Linked DNA regions of Homo sapiens: region 1 is linked to region 2. Evidence: fine-mapped expression QTL. A gene starts in region 2. The other region holds a variant in brackets. All regions are shown on one strand. Distances are from middle to middle.

Region 1 (3,027 bases), 180 kb after region 2:
ATATCTATACACAATTGTGTATAAAAGGATATCTAATTGTGTATAAAGGAATATCTATACACGATTATAGATATTGTATATAAAAGAAAATAATATAGAGTTACACTAAGTTTCTTTGGTAATGCTCCAACAGGGGCCATAAAAGCAGCCAGACATAATGAGCTCTGTTTAGTCAAGGATTCAGAAATACATAATTGTTACACATCAAAATCATCTTAAATACCTAAAATTTTCTATTTCTTCATCTTTCTCTGAAAGCTTTCTTTCAAGTTCTGCTTTAGCTTCCAAGAGTTCAAGCTGGAAATGAAGAATCTTGCTTTCATTACGTTCCAGGGCTCCCTGGAATACATAAATAAAAAGCATTAAATGAAGTCCACTTTTAGACAAAATTGTATTTTTTACCCAAAACATATGTCGCTAATGTAGCTCTCTTAGAGTTACTGGGAGAGATATAGGTTCAAGCCAGGTCCCTAGAGATTGCAACACAGTGAGACAAGCAACTGCTTTCATTTGTCATTTCACTTATAGATTTGACATTCTTAGGTCTTTCAGCTGTAGCTCCAGAACTAGAATTTTAAAGCCTATTTTAAAATAGAAAATTTCACTCTTGTCTGTGACTATATTTAAACTTTTTAATGTATTACCCTTGACTTTTTCTAACATATTCCAACTTTGGGATAAATTTTAAAAAGTATCAGAGCTAGAACAAGGAAGGTGATAACTCCTACCTGGAATCTTCTATTAAATTCTGGACATCACGAGGGGATAGAGGAAAAGTTGGATGTATTCAGAGAACAAACAACAGGGTAGTGTCCAAATATTGTCATATGAAGAACAAATAAAGGAATTTACAATGTACCTGACATGTAACACTCAGTGTGAGCCATTAACACCATAATTGGTACCACTACTGCAAATGAATTTCTTTGACAGGCAGAAGATTCCTTGCCCCTTTGTGTATTCAAATATAGTTAAGGCAATTATTTGCAGGGATGTTATAAAGGCAATTCAATTCTAAAAGCATAGGTTTGGCTAAATCTTTAAAACCCGTCCTGAAGCTAAAAATGTATATAAAAGAAGAAATCCAAAAAACACTTACAGAATACCAAGGATATAAGGGCATAAGGGGTGATGCAATTTTGTGGTCAGTTAGCTACAGGCAGTCCTAAGGGCAGAAGTAATTTTTTCATAGCCTCTTTTGAGGCGTGCTTAGCAGATATGACAAAATGTAAAAAAGTAAAACTGAGTTGCAATTTTAAAATAAAAATAAAAAGATGATGGGAATTTTAATAAGACCTCCCTTGATGTTATCTTGATACTACCTTCAATATAAAAGAAAATAAAATTGCTAACGCACACTCAAAAACAAATGCTTGGATAACAATTTCCTCAGAGGGAATAGTGTAGTAGTTCCTTCAAGAGGAAACTGTCACCTCTAACCCTCTAAAATGCACTGAGAAAGTGAATCTTTAGGGAACATGACCTGGGATAATGTGAGTTTTATGGCTTTAAAAAAATCTGATAAAGTTTCTCATAAAGGCTCACCCAGGAAAATAAATAACGCAATGTTACAAATACATGTCCAAGTTGATGAAGTATTTATGGATGTGGCTGAGGACAGAAGTGGAGAAAATGCGAATAGAATGTGTTGC[C/T]ATCTAGTGGTACTAAGTGGTTTGAGCATTATGGCCTTCCTGTCATTCTCACCCTTGACCCACGTGATGATCGACTGAATACACAAAGATGCCTCTGTGTTATACAGGACATAAATGGCCCGTGCCAGTTGTATTTTTCATTGGCTTGTCATAGTACTTGAAATTTCTATCATAAAATTTACTTCTTTCAGTTAAGGTGGTGGCTTCAAAAAGTCCCTTGCCAGGATAGCCAGAGAACCAAAGGGAACGAGTAAACAAAACAAAGTTCACCAACTGTGTAAGGACCAGCTGTGCTACAGGGCACCACACTGCCAACGAAAAGGAGTCTGTATAAAGTTAGATAGCCTCAGGAAACATTTATGTATAACAGGGTGAGAGCTGCTGCCTGACAACTCTATACAGAGGGTAATATGGACACATTTGCTTGGAAGTTTCTTCTGGAATCACAACGGTGAGGTAAATTTAACAGACAATGCTTGGCACAGAGTGGTCCTTTGGGGTCTTGTTTTCCATCGCCATACCTTCCAAGAGACCCCTGCCTAACACTGACTGCCACACCTTTCAAAAATCTTTTTTCTTTTTCTACTGGTGGGAGGATCAGGGCTGTATTTTAATGTGTCTGAATACTTGTTCAAAGGCTGAGTCAGGAAGATGAAGTTCAGCTCTGAGAAGAGGCTGCACAGGGCTTCTTAACCACCTAAGAATCATGATAAGATGACTTCCTTGTTAGTTTACCTTCTTTGGCGAAATGTCTTCTTAGAGGTCCTTTCAATTGCTAATGCACACCCAGAGATACAGCCAGAGACTTTTCCTGAACTGTGAATCCATAACACTGAAAACCCTCCTGTCAATCTGCACAAAGATGAGCTTTCAGAAACAAATGTTTGACAACATCACTTTGAATCTTATTTCTGAAACTACCGAAAGTTTTTGGGGAAAAAAAATTGAAAAGCTTTTGTGACTGACTCTTTAAAGAGGGGGCAGCTATGAGAATATTTATTCATTCAACATTTGACAAATATTTACTGAGCCTCTACTACATGCCAGGCAATGTTCTAGGCCAGTGCTTCTCAAATATTAATGTGCATATGAACCACCAAGGGATCTTGTTAAAATGCAGATCCTGATTCAACAGAGATGGGCAGAGGGCTGAGATTCTGAATTTCTAACAGCCTCCCAAGCGATGTCCATGGGCCACATGTTGAGTAGTGAGGGTCTGGGCACTGGGGATAAACTGGTGAACAAGATAGATAGTTCCTGTTTTTACTACAATCAGGAGATTTGCATTCACTGTTGTGTATCCTGCTCTCTGAGTCTCAATTTCCTCTTTTATAAAATGGGGACAGTAGTTTCCTACGGTGATTATATTAAAATT
Region 2 (2,500 bases):
TGCTTTCAGGATATGTTGGACTTTTCCCCCACCGGAACAAGGGTAAAACTTTAGGTTCTATGATAGGGGGACAATTCAATAGTTGTCATTCGTCTTTTCCACTTTTCAGTTTCTGAGAGTATGGTTATTACAAAGGCAGAAGTCTTTTAAACCATAGCAAGTAGTTAACAAGTTTACTAACCGCATTTAAAGTGCTCCTTAACAGGATCCTAAGTACCCACGGTCCCCAGTTGTATGAACAGGGTCTTAAACAACAACAAAAAACCCCAAACTAGAAAAAAAGCCTTAAGTGATAATGGCATTCCTCTCTGGAGGCGAATTTTGGACGGTCTTATAATTTTTCTAGACATTTACTTGTGTTTTTCTGAGTTTTCTTCAATGAGTATTTGTTTCATCTTTACAATCAGAAAATATAGTTTGTGTTTTCTGGTAATGCGTGTGTGTTGGAAAAAAACAGGCAAGCTGTCTTCCGATCCTTTCTGCCGTTCCAAAACTTATTTATTCTCTCTACAAAAATACCAAGTCAGGGCTGCGTGAGCTCCACGGACCTCCCGGGAGTTTGGGGTGAAGTGCCCTTCCCTGGCTAGGAAGACGGAGGCAAGGAATTGCTAACCCGCTCTCACGAAACTGGTTCCCAGCAGGACCAAGGAGGGCATCTCCCTGGGGGCTAGCAGGCACCCGGGCGCTCGGGGACGCCGGCACCCACCTGGACGGGGCCTTCAGGTTGCTCTTCCGGAGGAACTCCTCCTCGTAGCGGAGCAGCTTCAGCTTCTCCACCAAGTCCTCCATCACCACGAACATGTGGTAGGCCGCGCCGGGCCCCCGCTCCAAGACCACTTCCCCGGTCCCTTCGCCACGGGACCTAGGCACCCCATCTTCCAAACCCGACGTCGTGACGACGGCCAGAGCAGCAGTCATCGCAGAACGGACAGAGTCCAGCGTGGGCTCAGGCCCACAGACCTCTGCGGCCTAAGCCGCCAGCCCTGCCGCCGCCAGTACAGCCACGACCGGTTACCAGGCGACCACCGGACAATCCGTCACCAGGGAAACTAGACTCCGCCTCCTTCCCTCCAATCAGGGCGGCTTTCCTGAATGACGTCACCTGTGGCCCTCTTCTTGCCCTGCCTCTGTGGAAATGGTGGTCGGGAAGCAGCCCCGCCCCTCATGGAGGCGTGGCGTTCGCGCCCCACTGCCGGCTGCGTCTTCTCCCTCGCTGAAAGTCTGAAGGGAGCCGGCTTACGTTTCTGCTCCGCTTGCCTAGTGAGTCTTGAGCTGGCTTGAGGTGTGTTGGACCTGGTGGTTGCTAAAAGCAATTAAGCGGGCATCTGGGTCAGCTAGTAGCTGTTAAAAAGATTAAAGGGAGGTGAAGACGTGTAGCACTGAAGGCTGCACTGGCTCACTGATACCTTTATTTTCTCAGAATTGAAAAGTTTTTCATAGTTGTAAAGATAGTCAATACCATAGGTTTCACTTTTACTGCAGGAACTTTCCAACGAGAGGTTTCTCTCGTTCTTTCTTTAATTTTATCTTTCTCTCACTAGGCAATGCTGCACTTAACAGTATATTGTAAAGCTTGAAGTACTGTATTACGTTGCCTGGCTGTTACTCCAGTGCTAGGAAAGTGGTTGGAAGGATGAGGAAGACAATGAACAAAAGGAGGCATTTGGAAGGATTTGTTTTACTTCAAAAACAAGAATACTAAGCTTCCATCCTGCTGCTTAATCTGTTTCAAACCCATTACATGTAGTATAAAGTGTTTGGGTACTTCGTTAAATCCAACAGAATAGAGATGGTCTTAAAAGGAATTTCCCTGCCCTAAAGCTCTAAGGGTGGCTAAAGATAGGGTGTTACTACTGTATTCTGCAGTTATTGACCTAGAAAATTTAAGAAAAGGTACATAACTGACCACAGAAATGGCCCAGCTTTACAGTTTTCAAAAGGCTTCTGTATTAGGCAATTTTCTTAACAGTTGCAAAAAATGAGGTAAGTGGTGGATGCCTGGCAGTTTTTGGGAAGAAAACTTAGTACAAGAGATTGAACATATGTTCATGTTTATAACGTGACTTTTAAGGGCTCTCTGATCTCTTGTATCTGCCACTACAAAATATAGAAGGGCTACATTTTTGGACAACTGAAATTTGAAATGTATCTACAATATCCTGTTTTTATTAGAAAAAATGAGAACACTTTTCATTGTAATCCGTCTACAGCTAACTTGTTTCTGATACTAATAAGGTTATCAAAGTGAAAAGTCAGAAGGGCAAATACCATTTTTTCATTAAAGAAAGGAAGTACATAAAATTACAGACTTATGTAGAGAATAACCTGAAGGGCAGCCCACTGAGAATTGCTTTTTAAATAAATAACATTGCTTGCCTACCACAAGTCATGAGCCAGCTGCTTTTAATAAAGTTGAGTGAGAAAATTGGATTTGATGTTACCCCACTACCAAATTGATCTTTCCTGGTCTTTGCCTTTTTGAAACAGTGATTCTCCCCGA

What was found.
Region 1: its variant is fine-mapped to the expression of IFT57 in sun-exposed skin (GTEx, PIP 0.99).

What each region holds. Positions count from the first base shown.
Region 1 is chr3:108,405,115-108,408,141 of GRCh38, forward strand. It overlaps MYH15 (myosin heavy chain 15), which reads right to left. Exons shown (of 41, transcript NM_014981.3): 33 at 224-339. Among named protein-coding and RNA genes, the nearest start is that of MYH15, 100 kb to the right of the region's middle. RefSeq lists enhancers at 1,713-1,812, 1,873-1,932. The variant C/T (reference allele first, on the strand shown) is at 1,653.
Region 2 is chr3:108,221,405-108,223,904 of GRCh38, forward strand. It overlaps IFT57 (intraflagellar transport 57), which reads right to left and starts at 1,020. Exons shown (of 11, transcript NM_018010.4): 1 at 707-1,020. The coding sequence starts at 918. It overlaps LOC124909405 (a long non-coding RNA gene), which reads left to right and starts at 1,201. Exons shown (of 2, transcript XR_007095999.1): 1 at 1,201-1,282; 2 at 1,542-2,500. RefSeq lists an enhancer at 739-998 and a silencer at 934-1,227.